5 linked regions of the Homo sapiens genome follow. The protein of the gene in region 3 interacts with the protein of the main gene of each other region in a biochemical or structural test. Each region holds a gene or a part of one and is shown on either strand. Other genes may lie near its edges.

The links.
Region 1: the proteins of RPA2 (region 3) and ATRIP form a complex in vitro, tested with the Homo sapiens proteins (one study listed by BioGRID).
Region 2: the proteins of RPA2 (region 3) and HNRNPUL1 form a complex in vitro, tested with the Homo sapiens proteins (one study listed by BioGRID).
Region 4: the proteins of RPA2 (region 3) and RAD51 form a complex in vitro, tested with the Homo sapiens proteins (one study listed by BioGRID).
Region 5: the proteins of RPA2 (region 3) and NUFIP1 form a complex in vitro, tested with the Homo sapiens proteins (one study listed by BioGRID).

Annotation. Positions count from the first base shown.
Region 1 is NC_000003.12:48,449,725-48,453,244, reverse strand, and holds part of ATRIP (ATR-interacting protein), read right to left. Parts: intron 3,209-3,520; coding exon 3,075-3,208; intron 2,753-3,074; exon of another isoform or gene 2,670-2,752; intron 1,517-2,669; coding exon 1,346-1,516; intron 1-1,345. UniProt on the Homo sapiens protein: Required for checkpoint signaling after DNA damage. Required for ATR expression, possibly by stabilizing the protein.
Region 2 is NC_000019.10:41,274,352-41,277,871, reverse strand, and holds part of HNRNPUL1 (heterogeneous nuclear ribonucleoprotein U-like protein 1), read right to left. Parts: intron 1,714-3,520; coding exon 1,574-1,713; intron 1-1,573.
Region 3 is NC_000001.11:27,904,571-27,908,090, forward strand, and holds part of RPA2 (replication protein A 32 kDa subunit), read right to left. Parts: intron 2,713-3,520; coding exon 2,611-2,712; intron 2,472-2,610; coding exon 2,358-2,471; intron 1-2,357. UniProt on the Homo sapiens protein: As part of the heterotrimeric replication protein A complex (RPA/RP-A), binds and stabilizes single-stranded DNA intermediates that form during DNA replication or upon DNA stress.
Region 4 is NC_000015.10:40,715,669-40,719,188, forward strand, and holds part of RAD51 (DNA repair protein RAD51 homolog 1), read left to right. Parts: intron 1-3,136; coding exon 3,137-3,231; intron 3,232-3,520.
Region 5 is NC_000013.11:44,982,967-44,986,486, forward strand, and holds part of NUFIP1 (FMR1-interacting protein NUFIP1), read right to left. Parts: intron 1-3,520. UniProt on the Homo sapiens protein: Binds RNA.

The sequences.
Region 1 (3,520 bases), on a different chromosome or scaffold from region 3:
TAGGTACTGGATACCTACTGTTTTTCCTTCCAGAATAGCATTTTCCTTTCCCTGAGAAACAGGCTGGGCATTGTGGCTCACGCCTGTAATCTCAGCACTTTGGAAGGCCAAGGTGGGAGGACTGCATGAGCCCAGGAGCTTGAGAACGGCTTGGAGAATACAGCAAAACCCTGTCTGTACCAAAATTTAAAAATTAGCTTTGCCTGGTGGTGTGTGCCTATAGTTCCAGCTACCTGGGAGGCTGAGATGGGAGGATTGCTTGAGCCTGGGAGGTCAAGGCTGCAGTGAGCTGTGATTGCACCACTGCACTCCAGCCTGGGCAAGAGAGTGAAACCCTGGACCCTGTCTCAAAAAAAAAAAAAAAAAAAAAAAAATTCAATAATTTCCCTACCTCTGACTATTTTATTAGAATGGGAGCTGTCATTTTTTTGCTTTTGGTTGCTTTTGGTTATAGCAATTGGCCAGGGACAGACAACTGACTCAAGTTAAACCAATCAGAGCCTTTCTCAGAATTTTAAAACTTGAGATGAGGGAGCCTAAGTCTTTTTTTGAAACAGGGTCTCGCTCTATTGCCCAGGCTGGAGTACAATGGCATGATCATGGCTTACTGCAGCCTCAACCTCCTGGGCTCAAGCAATTCTCCCACCTCAGCCTCCTGAGTAGCTGGGACTACAGGTGCACACCACCATGCCTGGATAATTTTGTTCATTTTTTCTTTTTCTTTTTTGTGGAGATGAGGTCTCACTAGTTGCCCAGGCTGGTCTCGAACTCCTGGCTCAAGTAATCCTCTCACCTCAGCCTCCCAAAGTGCTGGATTATAGGTGTGAGCCACTGCATGTGGCCCTAAGTCTTAATTCTGCTCTGTATTTATAAAATATGAGCCCAGGAGCTTCTGGAGAACACACCCTCTACCATAAGTATAGAGCCTGTTTATAGCATAGAGAATAAAAATGTCCTGGCAAGATTTAAGTCATTTAAGGTCCCAGCATACCCCGGTTCTTCCCAGACTTGGATATGGAAGCCAATACGTTTCCTTTTAGCCTAAGCCAGGTCAGTTGAGTTTCTGATCTAGCAAAAGAGCCTTAATGTAAACCTGTTTCTAGAAATGCTAAGCTAGTTATTTACTCCTGCCAAGACCAACTACCACAGCAAAATAGAGTTTCATCTAAATCCCTTTCCAAAATATATCCAGACCCTGGAAGAAGAGTGGATGGCAATGAGATGATAGCAGAAAGTATTTAAGACAAACAAGTGTTGAAATCTCCCTGGAAGATTTACAGGCAACCCTGGTCAAAGGAACTCAGTGGGCAGGCAAAGCTGGTGCAAAACAAATGCTCTGGGTCACCTTTTTGGAGAATTCCTTTTCCTTGTCACTGAGTGCTTGGGTTTTCTCTTGCTCAAGAAGAAAATGTGATCTTCTCTGTTCCTCTAGAACGGATTCCGTCTGATGTAGTGAGTCTCGCAAAATTTTAATTTCTCCATTCTTAATGAGAACTTCTTCTTCCATTACTTTCATCTGTAAATCCCAAATTAATCTCGTGAAAACTTTGTAAGAGAAAACTACTTAGGTACTTTGTTTTAACATGTAGTTGGGGAGATGGAGAAAGCACAGGAAAAACAGACAAATGAGTACTCAAAATATATCCACAGCAACCAGATGTCACCATGGTCTGCTAGGCCTGTTCATGGGACAGCTGATATTCATCAAGATAGCTTAAGCATACACTTGCCACTCATGCATGCAGATTCTTTTTGCCAGGGAGGGGGATGGGGTTGCTTAGGCTGGAATGCTGTGGCACAATCATAGCTCAATGTAACCTTGAACTCCTGGGCTCAAGTGATCCTCTCGCCTCAACCTCTTGAGTAGCTAGGACTACAAAGCATGTGCCACTAGCCTGGCCAATTTTCACTTTTATCTGTAGAGACAGGGTCTCATTGTATTGCCCAGGCTGGTCTTGAACTCTTGGGTTCAAGCGATTCTCTCACCTTGGCCTCCCAAAGTGCTGGGATTACAGGCATGAGCCACCTTGCCTGACCAGATTCCTTTTTTTTTTTGAGACGGAGTCTTGCTATTGTCGCCTAGGCTGGAGTGCAATGGCACGATCTCGGCTCACTGCAACCTTCACCTCCCAGGTTCCAGCAATTCTCCTGCCTCAGCCTCCCGAGTAGCTGAGATTACAGGTGCCCGCCACCATGCCTAGCTAATTTTTGTATTTTTAGTAGAGACGGGTTTTCACCATGTTGGCCAGGCTGGTCTTGAACTCCTGACCTCAGGTGATCCACTGGCCTCGGCCTACCAAAGTGCTGGGATTACAGGTGTGAGCCACCGCGCCTGGCCGGATTCTTTAGGCTCTAAGAGGCATTAACGATCTGGGTCGCTGGGTGTGGTAGCTCATGCCTGTAATCCCAACACTTTGGGAGGCTGAGGCCAGGAGTTTGAGACCAGCCTGGCCAACATGGTGAAACTCCGTCTCTACTAAAAATACAAGAATTAGCTGGGCGTCGTGGTGCACACCTGTAGTCCCAGCTACTCTGGAAGCTAAGGCATGTGAATCGCTTAAAACCAGGAGGCAGAGGTTGAAGTGAGCCAAGATTGTGTCACTGTACTCCAGCCTGGATGACAGACTCCATCTCCAAAAAAAAAAAAAAAAAAAATCTGGGTCACATACCTTGCACAACTAAAATTCCACATATTCCTGGTTTTCTTAGGGACCTACAGATGGTGATATGAAGTGTCTGCTTTCTTGCAAAGCTGCTAATGAAAATAGCAACCATTATGAAGTTGTATTATTCACATGAAGATACATGCTATAAATTCATCTTAGTACCCTAACAGTTTGTATCTCTTTTTGGATCTGGTATACAGTGTTTTTCTTCTTGCCTTTGGCATTAGGAATCTCACAATTTAGTTTCTTTCAGCCTAAACTTTCTGGTTTTCTTTCCCTAGTCTTTTCCCATGTCATAGGGATGAATCTAGACACTTGTTTTACAACTTTTGTATATTTTACTGTACAATGCTTTTAAACACGTAAGTGAATGAATTAGCTACAAAAACCACAAGTTAAGTCACTTACCTTTTCTTTAAGTTCTTTGTATTGTGCCTGAAGTACCTCTAATTCGAAATTATCTTTAATTGGAACAGTTTCTCTGTTTTTCCCTGAAGGATTTTTTGACATGCCATCTAATAATCTGTGGACCTTATGATCACCTGTAAAAAATAGTTCCATATACATTTCAGGACCCAATATTTTCCCACTTTTGCCAGAAAATGCTGAAAATACCCACTTTTTTTTTTTTTTTCTTTTTTGAGATAGGGTCTTGCTCTGTTACCCAGGTTGGAGTGCAGTGGTGTGATCACTGCTTACTGCCACCTTGACCTCCTGGGTTCAAGTGATCCTCCTGCCTTAGCCTCCTGTGTAGCTGGGACTACAGGTGTGTGCCACCATGCCTGGCTTTTTTTTTTTTTTTTTTTTTGGATTTTAGTAGAGATGGCGTTTCACCATGTTAGCCAGGCTGGTCT
Region 2 (3,520 bases), on a different chromosome or scaffold from region 3:
CACATTTTAAAATCTCTGAAATCAGGATCCATTTTACAATAAATGTGATGAGAAAGCACTGCGTATGCTGGGTGCGGCAGCTCACGCCTGTAATCCCAGCACTTTGGGAGGCCAAGGCAGGCAGATCACCTGAGCTCAGGAGTTCAAGCCCAGCCTGATCAACATGGAGAAACCCCATCTCTACTAAAAATACAAAAATTAGCCGGGCAGGGTGGCACATGCCTGTAATCCCAGCTACTGGGGAGGCTGAGGCAGGATAATTGCTTGAACCCGGGAGGCAGAGGTTGCAGTGAGCCGAGATCGCGCCACTGCACTCCAGCCTGGACAACAAGAGTGAAACTCCATCTCAAAAACAAAAAAACAAACAAACAAAAAAAGAAAACACTGCGTAGTTTATTTTGTTGCAGTGTTTCTCTATGAGAGGTACATAAAATAATGCACAACTTACATCAATGGTGTCGTGGTCAATAAAATATAACCCTCTGTGTTTCAGCTTCTACCTCTAAAAACTGGGGCTAACAGTACCTGTTTCCAGATGGTACTGTGAGGATTAATGGAGATAATCCATGTAAAGAGCTTGGTGCTGTATCTTGTGCATGCAAAGAGCTCTATACTTATTAGCTATCATCAGTAAGTTTGGATACACAAACCACAGGTAAGAAATTGTTAACACAGAAGTTCCCTCCAGGGAGTAGGATGGTAGGATGGGAACTGAGAGGACATGAGAATAACCTGTTTTGTTTTTTTTGTTTTTGTTTTTTTGTTTTTTTTTTTTGAGACAGAGTCTCACTCTGTCACCCAGGCTGGAGTGCAGTGGCGTGATCTCGGCTCACTGCAACCTCTGCCTCTTGGGTTCAAGCAATTCTCTGCCTCAGCCTCCTGAATAGCTAGGATTGCAGGCACCCGCCACCATGCCCGGCTAATTTTTTTGTATTTTTAGTAGACAGGGTTTCACCATCTTGGCCAGTTTGGTATTGAACTCCTGACCTTGTGATCCACCTGCCTTGGCCTCCCAAAAGTGCTGGGATTACAGGCAAAAGCCACCACACCTGGCGAGAATAACCTGTTTTATCCTGTACTTTTCTGTGCTGTCTGAACTTTTGTTAAACATGAGCATCTATTATTTTCATAAACATAACTTGACATGGAACTGTGGAGAGATGACAGCAGAGGCTGGCCTAAGCTGGCAGTTCTTTGCCCTGTTCTCCCTCTGGCCTCCCTTTAATAAGTGACATCTGAGTCTATTCTTTCTAGATCACTTTTCTTCCAAACAACTTCTTTTCTCAGTTCTACAAACATGTCATCACTACACTGGTTGACTACATAATACCTGGGTCAAATCTCACCAAGGAAATATCTGCTTGATGAAGCAATGCATGGTTGGCCTGCTTTTCTGATATGATATTTAGCAATGATGTAGTTGTCTTGAGTTCATCACAGTTTTGTCTGCTTGGACATGGTATTGCACAATCCAATCTCTTTTGCAGTTGCAGCTCTGACCAAGGTGGCTGGTATCAGGATATTACAATGGATGGACTTCTCTGTCCCTTCCCCTTCTCTTGCTCCTACTCACCTTCATCTCGAAGCATACACGGCCCCTTCTGACCCCATAGCTGGCACGGGCTCCTGACCACAGGTATGCAAAGCCCTCAATTGTGAGCGGATAGCCACTACTCCGATCTCGGGCCACCTTGAAGTGGAGGTCGCAGTTATCTGTGAAGGAAAATGCCCACAGTTGGCTGATGTTTTTATTTTGTTTTGTTTTCTTGAGACGGAGTTTCACTCTTTTTGCCCAGGCTGGAGTGCAATGGTGCGATCTTGGCTCACCGCAACCTCCGCCTCCCGGGTTCAAGTGATTCTCTTGCCTCAGCTTCCTGAGTAGCTGGGATTACAGGCATGCACCACCACACCTGACTAATTTTGTATTTTTTAGTAGAGATAGGGTTTCTCCATGTTGGCCAGGCTGGTCTCGAACTCCCGACCTCAGGTGATCCACCTGCCTCGGCCTCCCAAACTGCTGGGATTACAGGCGTGAGCCACCACGCCCGGCCTGGCTGATGTTTTAGAAGTCCTAAGAAAGAAGCAGGCAGAGGGAACTTCCCCAAGTGCTGACCAGGAGTACACAGTGAACACATCATGGGGGCAGTTTCAAAAGGAACCAGCACACCCCTCAACCTCTCTCCCTTTGAGTAGGGAGGATGTGCAGTATTGCAAATTGGCCTGTATGACCTCAGAGAGGAACTGGGGTTCTTTATCTGGTGGGATCCAAGGATGGGGCTTCAGGGGTATCCTCAGAAATTGTCAACACATGTCTTTGGTGGGGATGTGTATTTGCTAGGGATAGGGTCCATATCCTCAGCAGTTTCAAATTAATTTTTTTTTTTGAGACAAGGTCTCGCTTTGTCACCCAGGCTGGAGTACGGAGGCATGATCTCGGCTCACTGCAACTTCTGTTCTCCTGCGCTTAAGCCATCCTCCCACCGCAGCCTCCTGAACAGCTGGGACTACAGGGATATGCCACCATGCCAGGGTGATTTTTATATTTTTCGTAGACAGGGTTTCGCCATGTTACCCAGGCTCAAACTAGTTTTTAGAATACAAAAAGGTTAATCACCACCACCATATATTCCTACCGCCCTCTGTGGTAATTCTATCAATTTGGGAACCGGACTTCTGTTTCCAATAGCTATACAGGGATCTGACCCTGATCCACACCTGCCACCCAGGAACCAATGCCCAGGTGCCCCATAGGCTCCTAATTCCTTTCATGGGCCTAGGACTCTCCTACTGTTGCTCTTACCCTTCTCAATATTCTCAATATTCAAGGAGCCAGTCACGCCTCCAAGAAAGCCTTTCCTGACCATCCCTCCCATGAGGCGCTCTCCTTTCTCTAAAGGCTGACCGTCATGATCTGTACATTTGCATTTCATCTAGACGCTGCCTCATGAACCACTGCCACCCAACACTTTTTAAACAATGTTTACCTCTACTCTGGGTAGATGTTGTTTTCGAGAGCTTGTGATATTAGAGATTGTGTATATTTTTATCTCTTACTAAAGCATGTAGCCAGTGCTTTATAAACAGAAGCTTCTGTAGAAATAGATGAATAAATTGCTGCTTATCTTCTGCTCTGTTGAGAAGTGCAGTGTTCTCAGACCTGATTGGGCTTCTGGGTGCATGTAAAAATTTAGATTCATAGGCTCGACCACTTAGACTCTTGACTAGGAGGTCTGAGCGAAAGGACCTTTATAATAATTCCTCCAAATGCTCAGATGCACAGTGAAGGTGAAAGCCACTTATCCAGTGGAAAGAAAACTGAACTGGAGGACAGACAGCAGGGCGGGCCAGGTTAGTGCCTCACAGGACACAGTGGCATTGGTTTCACCAGGAACTTGAGCAGCTGATGGAAACGGGAACTGGTTGTCAAAGAGTTAAGTTTCCCCAGCTGCACTCAGATTCCCTTCCTGATTAGATGACAACCCCTGTGTGTACAGGGCGGTTCAGGGTTTTCCAGATTGCT
Region 3 (3,520 bases):
AGAAGGAAAAAATTTAAAAATTACATAACTACCAAGTTATTTCTCTATAGATAACTTGTGGTTTTTGAAGGAGAACCGCATTTTTTTTTTTGAGTCAGTCTTGCTCTGTTGCCCAGAGCAACAGAGCAGTGCGCAATCTGCTGGAGTGCAGTGGCGCAATCTTGGCTCACTGCAACCTCTGTCTCCTAGGTTCAATCAATTTTTCTGTCTCAGCTTCTGGGTAGCTGGGATTACAGGCACCCAGCTCATTTTTGTATCATTAGTAGAGATGGAGTTTCATCACGTTGGCCAGGCTGGTTTCAAACTTCTGACTTCAGGTGACCCGCCAGCATTGGCCTCCCAAAGTGCTGGGATTACGGGCGTGAGTCACCATGCCCAGCCTAAAACAGTCTTTATTATCCAAATTTTCTGTAATGAATGTATTTCAAAAACAAAATACAAAACACCAAGAGGCCTTCTGCACAATTGAAAAATAAAAGGATAAAAAGTATATACTGTATTTCAGTCTATTTTATCCATGTTTATAAAGACACTTATATATATGCTGCTTTGTAAAAATTGGGTCAAATCCTGCATACCACATTGTAATATGCTTTTCTCAACAATTTATGGCAAACACTTCTTTGTGGCAATACACGCTTTTCTGTATCATTTGTAGTATGTTATAAATGTGTCATGGTTTACTTAATAATCCTTTATTGCTAGTATTTTGAGATTGCTTTATTTTTATTTATTCATTTTGAGACAGAGTCTTGCTCTGTCGCCCAGGCTGGAGTGCAGTGGCATGATCTCGGCTCACTGCAACCTCTGCCTCCCAGGTTCAAGCAATTCTCCTGCCTCAGCCTCCTGAGTAGCTGGGATTATAGGTGCGCAGAACCACGCCCGGCTAATTTTTGTATTTTTAGGAGACGGAGTTTCACCTGTTGGCCAGGCTGGATTCGAACTCCTGACCTCAGGTGATCTGCCTGCCTTGGCTTCCTAAAGTGTTGCGATTACAGGCGTGAGCCACTTCACTGGCCTAAATCTTTGTACCTGTCTTTAATTCTTTCCTTGATGTAAACTCCTAAGCTGTGGAGTTCTGCTAGGTCACCACTGTTTGTCTTTTTTTGTTTTGAGGCGCAATCTTGGCTCACTGCAAGCTCCGCCTCCCAGCTTCATGCCATTCTCCTGCCTCAGCCTCCCGAGGAGCTGGGACTACAGGCGCCTGCCACCACACCCGGCTAATGTTTTGTATTTTTAGTAGAGACAGGGTTTTACCGTGTTAGCCAGGATGGTCTTGATCTCCTGACCTCGTGATCCGCCCACCTCGGCCTCCCAAAGTGCTGGGATTACAGGCGTGAGCCACCATGCCAAGCCAAAAAGGAGCTTTATATTAATTAAAAATTTAAATGTTTGTAATATGTTGCAAATATTTTCCACATTCATTTAAACAATACTTATTCCAGGACCACTATGTGACTAGCACTGCTCTAGGTGCTAAGGCTACAGCGGTGACCAAGATAAAAATCTTTGTTCTAGGCCGGGCGTGAGGGCTCATGCCTGTAATCCAATCACTTTGAGAGGCTGAGGAGGGTGGATCACCTGAGGTCAGGAGTTTGAGACTAGCCTGGCCAACATGGCAAAACCCCATCTCTACTAAAAATACAAAAAATTAGGTGTGGTGGCGGGTGCCTGTAATCCCAGCTACTTGGGAGGCTGAGGCAGGAGAACTGCTTGAACCTGGGGCCCAGAGGCTGCAATGAGCTGAGATTGCGCCATTGCACTCCAGCCTGGGTGACAGCACAAGATTCTGTCTCAAAAAAAAAAACCAAACAAACAAACAAACAAAAAAGCAGGGGCTGGGTGTGGTGGCTCAAGCCTGTAATAATCCCAGCACTTTGGGAGGCCAAGGTAGGTGGATCACAAGGTCAGGAGTTCAAGACCAGCCTGACCAAGATGGTGAAACCCCATCTCTAGTAAAAATACAAAAATTAGCCGGGCGTGGTGGCAGGTGCCTGTAATCCCAGCTACTTGGGAGGCTGAGGCACAGGATCGCTTGAGCCCGGGATGCGGACGTTGTAGTGAGCCGAGATTCCACCACTGCACTGCCTGGGCGACAGAGTGAGACTCTGTCTCAAAAAAAACTTTGTTCTAATGGAACTTAACATTCTACTGTCTCCTGTCATTTGACTTTTAATTCTGTTTTTGGTATATTGGGAAGGTATATAGTCAAATCTACTAACCTTTTACTTTAGAGTATCTGTCTTTGATGTCTTTTTGTATTATTTTTATAAGAAAAAACTTTAAAAAGACTAAAAAAGTTCAACATCTCCACAGTTCCAAAGTAACCCCATCATGATTCAAAAACAGCCACTTACATCTGTGTCAACCCACTGGCGAACGTCCATGGGTGCAGCTGTCATGTCATCTATTTTGTAAACAATGTTGGTTGGAGCCTTCTCTGCATGTCTGATGATCCCCACAATAGTGACCTAGGTTAGAAGAAACAAAGAAAAAAAAAAAAGGTCTGGTTCCCCCTGAAACCAAGGCTACATTTTTGTATTTTTTAATGAAGTCTTATTTCATTCTTTATTATGAGTAAGTGATTCTTTCACAAATTATTTGACATACCTGTGAAATCTCAACATTCCCAATTCTGAACACTTCATCAACCAAAGTGGCAGAAAGCAGCTGAGATATAGTACAGGGCACAATGTGCTGGGCTCGGGCTCTCTGAAAAGAAAAAACATGCAAAATTCAATTAAGAAAGTAATAACTACCACTCATTCAACACCTGCCATGTGCCAAGTACTTTAAATATATTAGAACATTGAATTTCAAAACAAATCTCATTATCCTTGCTTCAGAGAGATGGAAACCAAGGTCATATAGCAAACCAATACCACACTTTTAGAATCCAAACCCAGGTTTGTCTAACTCCAGAGCTCCTGCTGAATAGATACACATGTTGCTCTGAGAATTCACCAAAATGAATAGGTCAGAGTGGGGGACAGGATAAGGAAGAATGACCTGCTGCTGCCAGAACAGACCTTCAAGAGGAAACCCCAGCTTTAGGGTGTAGACAGGCTGGTGCTGCTGTTCAGGTCACTGACAAAATGAGATGGTATTGGGAAAAGGTTTGAGAAATGACTAATGGAGACAGGACTTTGGAATTGCTTGTAGGTCTTGTGATGAACTGTAAAAGGTAGAAGAATAGCTTCTTGTAGGACAGATTTTTTGACTATCAAATGGAGCTCCTGGGGAAATGGAGTAAGAGCTTGGCCATGTTGGACATCTTTTTAAATTTTTTTTCTTTGAGACAGAGTTTCGCTCCTGTTGTCCAGGCTGGCATGCAATGGCGTGATCTCAGCTCACTGCAACCTCCGTCTCCCGGGCTCAAGCGATTCTCCTGGCTCAGCCTCCTGAGTAGCTGGGACTATATGTGCCAGCATTTTGCATTTTTAGTAGAGATGGGGTTTCACCATGTTGGCCAGGCTGGTCTGGAACTCTTGACCTCAGGTGATCTGCCCACCTCAGCCTC
Region 4 (3,520 bases), on a different chromosome or scaffold from region 3:
ATCCATCCCCATGATCTTACCCTGGGAGCTTGTCCACTATCCTGTTGTCAGTCTACCTACCTATTCCCAATCATCTGTGGCCTTTCCTTTGCCAAGGAAGTCTATTCAATTGGAAAAGAATCCCCTGTCATGTTAGCACTTAATATTACCTGGAGGTAGGAGAAAGGAGAACTTCGTTCATCTTATTTCCTGGGGACTTAGTCCCCAGAGTGTTAATATTTCCTCCTCTCCAAGAAACTGAGGCAGATTCTGCTCTCTGTCCTCTTGGCCACTGGTTCCAAGTCTTTCTTTAGGCATGACCCTCTTTTGTTGTATATGTGTCCTTTGCTCCTTCCATGGATTCCCATGATGTGAGAGATTTTATCTGCCAAATAGTAACGTAATTTTTCCCTTCCAAATTAACAAAGCCTTCCGTAACTGTATACACTAAAGTCAGTGCCCTAAAGGTTGGGAAAATCATGTCTTCAGAGTGTACCGTGCTAAACGCTTTACATGAATTATTTTATTTAGTTTTTAAAACAATCCCATAAGGTCGGTTTTATTTACATTTTACAGAAAAGGAAACAATATTCTCAGTCACATAGTAAGTGGAAGAACCACTTATATAAAAGAAGTATATGAAAATGCATAGAAAATAATCTGGGAAATTATTTCTGGGAGATGGAGAGTGGTGAAGAGCTTTCAGTTTTTTCTCCGCCACTTCCTCTTTTTTTTTTTAGACAAAGTCTCACTCTGTCACCCAAACTGGAGTGCAGTGGCATGATATCGCTCACTGCACCCTCCGCCTCCCAGGTTCAAGTGATTCTTGTGCCCCAGCCTCCCGAGTAGCTGGGATTACAGGTGTGCACCACCACGCCCCACTAATTTTTGTATTTTTAGTAGAGACAGGGTTTCACCATTTTGGCCAGGCTGGTCTCGAACTCCTGACCTCAGGTGATCCACTCGCTGGGATTACAGGTGTGAGCCCCCATGCCTGGCCTCTCTACTTCTTTTTTTTTTTTTTTTTTTTTGAGATGGAATCTCGCTCTGTCACCCAGGCTGGAGTGTAGTGGCACGATCTCGGCTCACTGCAAGCTCTGCCTCCCAGGTTCACGCCATTCTCCTGCCTCAGCCTCCCAAGTAGTTGGGACTACAGGTGGCCGCCACCACGCCCGGCTAATTTTTTGTATTTTTAGTAGAGACAAGGTTTTACCATGTTAGCCAGGATGGTCTCGGTCTCCTGACCTCAGGTGATCCACCTGCTTCGGCCTCCCAAAGTGCTGGGATTACAGGCGTTAGCCACTGCGCCTGGCCTCCGGCCCTCTACTTTTATATTGTTTAGATTTTTAATATAAGCATATAGTTGTTTTGTAATTTCAAAAAAAAATTCTCAAAGATAAGAAAGAAAATTTGGGCTGGGTGCAGTGGCTCACGCCTCCCAGCACTTTGGGAGGCCAAGGTGGGTGAATCACCTTAGGTCAGGAGTTAAAGACCAGCCTGACCAACGTGGAGAAACCCCATTTTTACTAAAAAATGCAAAATTAGCCGGGCGTGGTGGTGCATGCCTGAAATCCCAGCTACTTGGGAGGCTGAGGGAGGAGAATCCCTTGAACCCGGGAGGCAGAGGTTGTGGTGAGGCAAGATCATGCCATTGCACTCCAGCCTGGGCAACAAGAGCGAAACTCCGTCTCAGAAAAAAAAGAAAGAAAAAATTTGGTTCTCCTAGGCCTTTAACATAAAATGTTCTAAAGGATTTTCCTCATAATTTAAATGGGAATTATGACTCCAAAGTAGATTTCTAGAGTAGAAATTACCCTTTAGCATCATTCACTTAAACTTTGTAGAAAAATTCAAAGGTATCTGGTATGGAATGGGTAGTCTAAAGCAGAGATTTCCTTGAGTGGCTCATAAGACAGTTTTCATGGCATTTCATTTACTTCTCTTTTCTTTCCTTTTTGTTTTCTCTTTAAAATTCTTTCTACTTATTTTTCTGTTTTCTCCAATTGTTCATTTTAAACATCTTGTTTATACTATTGGAGTAAATATGTTTTTTTCTTCTTTCTTGCTCACACTCGAAATTTGCTATAGACACTCCGAGGGCATTGACTAGTCCCTTTAGTACCCCTAAAGAATGAACTGCTCAATAAAGTGAAGTATAAGTTTGATATAGACATGCTAAAATTAACTGGGCTTTGGATCATGGCCCATTATTGATTAAAGCTAAGGTAAATGGTCTTCCAAGTTTCTGTACTTTTGAATTGATCAGTCTTGTGTTGGTATGCAGTTCTAGAATTTTATTACTGGCCAGGTGTGGTGGCTCACGCCTGTAATCCCAGCACTTTAAGAGGCCGAGGCGGGCAGATCACTTGAGTCCAGGAGTTCAAGACCAGCCTGGGCAATGTGGCAAAACCCTATCTATAAAAAAATTTAATCGGGTGTGGTGGTGCACACCTATGGTCTCAGCTATTTGGGAGGTGAGATGGGAGGATCTCCAGAGCCCGGAAGGCAGAGGTTGCAGTGAGCCAAGATTGCACCACTGCACTCCAGCCTGGGCGGCGGAGTGAGACCCTGTCTCCAAAACAAAAAAAGGCCAGGTGCAGTGGCTCGTGCCTATAATCCCAACACTTTGGGAGGCCAAGGCAGGCAGATCACCTGAGGTCAGGAGTTCAAGACCAGCCTAGCCAACTTGGTGAAACCCTGTTTCTACTAAAAATACAAAAATTAGCTGGGCGTGGTGGCATGGACCTTTAATCTCAACAACTCAGGAGGCTGAGGCAGGAGAGTTGCTTGAACCCAGGAGGTGGAGGTTGCAGTGAACCGAGATAACGCCACTGCACTCCAGCCTGGGCAACAGTGAGACTATCGCAAGAAAAAAAAAAAAAAGAAGAAAAGAATTTTATTACCTACTTTGGGCTATATTTCTAAGCAGTCCAGTTCTGACAGGACTAGCTGTATGTACTGAGACACAATCAGCTTTACATATTTTTCTAGCTGTATTTCTATTAATATCAGAAGGGAATGCCTCCTTCCTACCACTGTCATTTTTAAATGTTTTTTTCCCTTTGCCTTGGAGGAATTATAAAGATGTCATGAGGAGCTTGGTCAGCTGTATCAGAAATACAATGTTCATTTCTACTGTTGTTTTTGTTCTCTATAGCTTCCCATTGACCGGGGTGGAGGTGAAGGAAAGGCCATGTACATTGACACTGAGGGTACCTTTAGGCCAGAACGGCTGCTGGCAGTGGCTGAGAGGTAGGTTACTGGTTTAGATAAGAGAGACTATGGCTACACTTATCAATGTAGTGATTGCCAGGGTTAGTTTGGCCGAAGAATGTCTCTTCTATAACCCCACGTCCCAAAGTTGTATGTGTGGTTCAAAAGAATGACTTCCTTAGTAGAAAAAGGCATTCTTTTTTTTTTTTTTCTTCAGATGGAGTCTCGCTCTTGTCACCCAGGCTAGAGTGCGGTGGCGTGATCTCAGGTCACTGCAACCTCTGCCTCCCGGGTTCAAGCAACTCTCCCACCTCAGCCTTCCTAGTAG
Region 5 (3,520 bases), on a different chromosome or scaffold from region 3:
CACTACACTCCAGTCTAGGCAACAGCACAAGACCCTGTCTCTGTCTCTTTTAAAAAAATTATTCTTTGTATAGAGATGGGGTCTCACTATGTTGCCCAGGCTGATCTCACACTCCTGGGCTCAACCGATCTGCCTGCCTCAGCCTCCAAAGTCCTGGGACTGCAAGCGTGAGCCACCATGCCCAGCTGACCCTGTCTCTTATTTTATTTTATTTTTTTTGGCGGGGGAGATGCAGTTTCGCTCTTGTTGGCCAGCCTAGAGTGCAGTGGCACAATCTTGGCTCACTGCAACCTCTGCTTCCCAGGTTCAAGCGATTCTCCTGCCTCAGCCTCCCGAGTAGCTGGGATTACAGGCATGTGCCACCATGCTCAGGTAATTTTCGTATTTTTTAGTAGAGACAGAGTTTCACCATGTTGGCCAGGCTGGTCTCGAACTCCTGACCTCAAGTGATCCACCTGCCTCGGCCTCCCAAAGTGCTGGGATTACAGGCGTGAGCCACCGCACCCAGCCCCCCGTCTCAAATAAAAAAAAAAAAAAAGTTGAGGGAGGGGCTGGCATGATGGCTCACATCTATAATTCCAACACTTTGGGAGGCCAAGGCGGGCAGACCACTTGAGCCCAAGAGTTTGAGATCAGCCTGAGCAGCCTGGCGAAACTCTGTCTCTACAAAAAATACAAAAATTAGCCAAGCTTGGTGGTATGTGCCTGTAGTCCCAGCTACTTGTGAGGCTGAGATGGGAGAATCACTTGAGCCCAGCAGGTTGAGGCTGCAGTGAGCCATATATGTGCCACTGCACTCCAGCCTGGGCCACAGAACAAGACCCTGTCTCAAAAAGCAACAATAATAAAGGATGAGTTTGACCTTCTCTCACTCTCTCTCACCATGTGATGCCTTTCTTGATGTCACCATGCAGCAAGAAGGTCCTCAACAGCCCCTTGATCTTGGACATAACCTCAAGAACTATGAGCCAAATAAATTTCTGTTCATTATATATTACCCAACAGGTCATACTCTGTTATGGCAGCACAATAGGGACTAAGACAGCTTCCTAGAGACCTTCCATGAGATTCTAATTTATTTTCTTACCCTACCCTTCCCCATACCTTTCACATACTCTGCTTCAGTCACACCAGAACCCTGCAATCTCCAGAACTTGCCTTGTACTGACACCTCTTTCTCTACCTAGGAAACATCTCTTCCCAAATTCTATACATCTCCTAAGACACTTCTTCCAAAAGCTTTTCCCAATTTCCTCTACATTCTGAAATCAGCTATTATATGCCTCTATCATCAGTCACACTGTATTTTGATTCATACTTATAACATATCTCATCTGACTCAGCCAAGTCCGTATTTCCAGCATCTGCCATACAATAAACACTAACTGTTTGGGCCAGGTGTGATGGCTCATTCCTGTATTCCCAGTGCTTTGGGAGGCCAAGGCAAGCAGATCACTTGAGGTCAGGAGCTCGAGACCAGCCTGGCCAACATGGTGAAACCCAGTCTCTACCAAAAATACAAAAAATTAGCCAGGTGTGGTAGTGCGTGCCTGTAGTCCCAGCTACTCAGGAGGCTGAGGCAGAAGGATCCCTTGAACCCAGGAGGTGGAGGCTGCAGTGAGCCGAGATGGTGCCACTGTACTCTAGCCTGGGTGACAGCAAGAGACTCTATTTAAAAAAATAAATAAAATAAAATAAAAATAAAACACTAATTGTTCAGATTCAGTTTAATGCAGAATTGAATTTTTTTTTATTATTATACTTTAAGTTTTAGGGTACGTGTGCACAATGTGCAGGTTAGTTACATATGTATACATGTGCCATACTGGTGTGCTGCACCCATTAACTCGTCATTTAGCATTAGGTATATCTCCTAATGCTATACCTCCCCGTTCCCCCCACCCCACAACAGTCCCCAGAGTGTGATGTTCTCCTTCCTGTGTCCATGTGTTCTCATTGTTCAATTCCCATCTATGAGAGAGAACATGTGGTGTTTGGTTTTCTGTCCTTGCAATAGTTTACTGAGAATGATGACTTCCAATTTCATCCATGTCCCTACAAAGGATATGAACTCATCATTTTTTATGGAATGCAGAATTGAATTTTCTGCAAAGTTGGAGAATGGTTTTAAATTAACACTCTTGTAGCTTGAAATATGATCTATATGGTGTCAACACCCAAATTTATAGCTCCAGCCACAAATCTCCCCTGAAAGTAGACTAATAGCTAAAAGCCTATTCAATATCTCTACCTGACACAAATATATTCCAACTTTAATTCCTGGACTTCCTTCCAAATCTGCTCCATCCACATTCTTACCTATCTCAGTTAATAGCAACTCCATCCTTCCAATTGTTTGGCAAAAAAACTTTAAATTATCCTTCTCTCCTCTTTATCTTGCATCCCATATATCCTATCTTTCAGTAAATCATGCAGTCCCCACCTTTAAGGTATAAAAGCACATCTCATTTCACTGCACTTCGTTTTACACAGCTTTTTGCAAGCTAAGGGTCTGCGGCAACCCTACATCAAGCAGGTCTATCAGCACCATTTTTCCAACAACAATGTGCTGTCTTTGTGTCACATTTTGGTGATTCTCGAAATATTTCAAACTTTTTCATTTTTATTACGTCTGTTATACTGATCTGTGATCAGTGATCTTTGATGCTACTACTGTAATTGTTTTGAGACACCATGAATCGTGGCCATATAAGATGGTGAACTTTATAAATGCTGTGTATGTTCTAACTGCTCTACCAACCGGTGGTTCTCCTCTCCCTCTCCTCAGGCCTCCCTATCCTCTGAGACGCAATATTCAAAAGTAGGCCAATTAATAACCCTATCATGGTCTCTAAGTGTTCAAGCAAAAGGAAGAGTCACATGTCTCTCATTTTAAATCGAAAGCCAGAAATGATTAAGCTTAGTGAGGAAGACACGTTGAAAGCTGATACAAGCCAAAAGCCAGGCCTCTTGTGCCAAACGGCTAGCCAAGTTGTGAATGCAACTACTGAGAAAGGGTCTCACTGTCAGCCAGGCTGGAATATAAAGGTGCAGTCATAGCTCATTGCAGCCTCAAACTCCTGGGCTCAAGGGATCCTCCTGCTCTGCCCTCCTGAAGTGCTGGGATTACAGTCGTGAGCCACCGTGTCTGGATGAAAAGTTCTTGAAAGAAATCCACAGTGATTCATAGATAGTGATTCCTCTAATGGATCTGAGCAAAGTAGATTAAAAACCTTCTAGAAAGGAGGTTTTGATTCACTATTCAAGATACCATTAAGAACATTCATGATTTATGGAAGGAGGTCAAAAGATCAACATTAACAGGAGTTTGAAAGAAGAAATTCCAACCCTCATAGACGATTTTGAGGAATTCAAGACTTCAGTGGAGGAAGTCACCTCAGATGTAGTAGAAACTGCAAGAGAACTACAATTAGAAGTGGAGGGGCCAGGCGCAGTGGCTCACGCCTATAATCCCAACACTTTGGGAGGCTGAGGTGGGTGGATCACGAGGTCAGGCGAT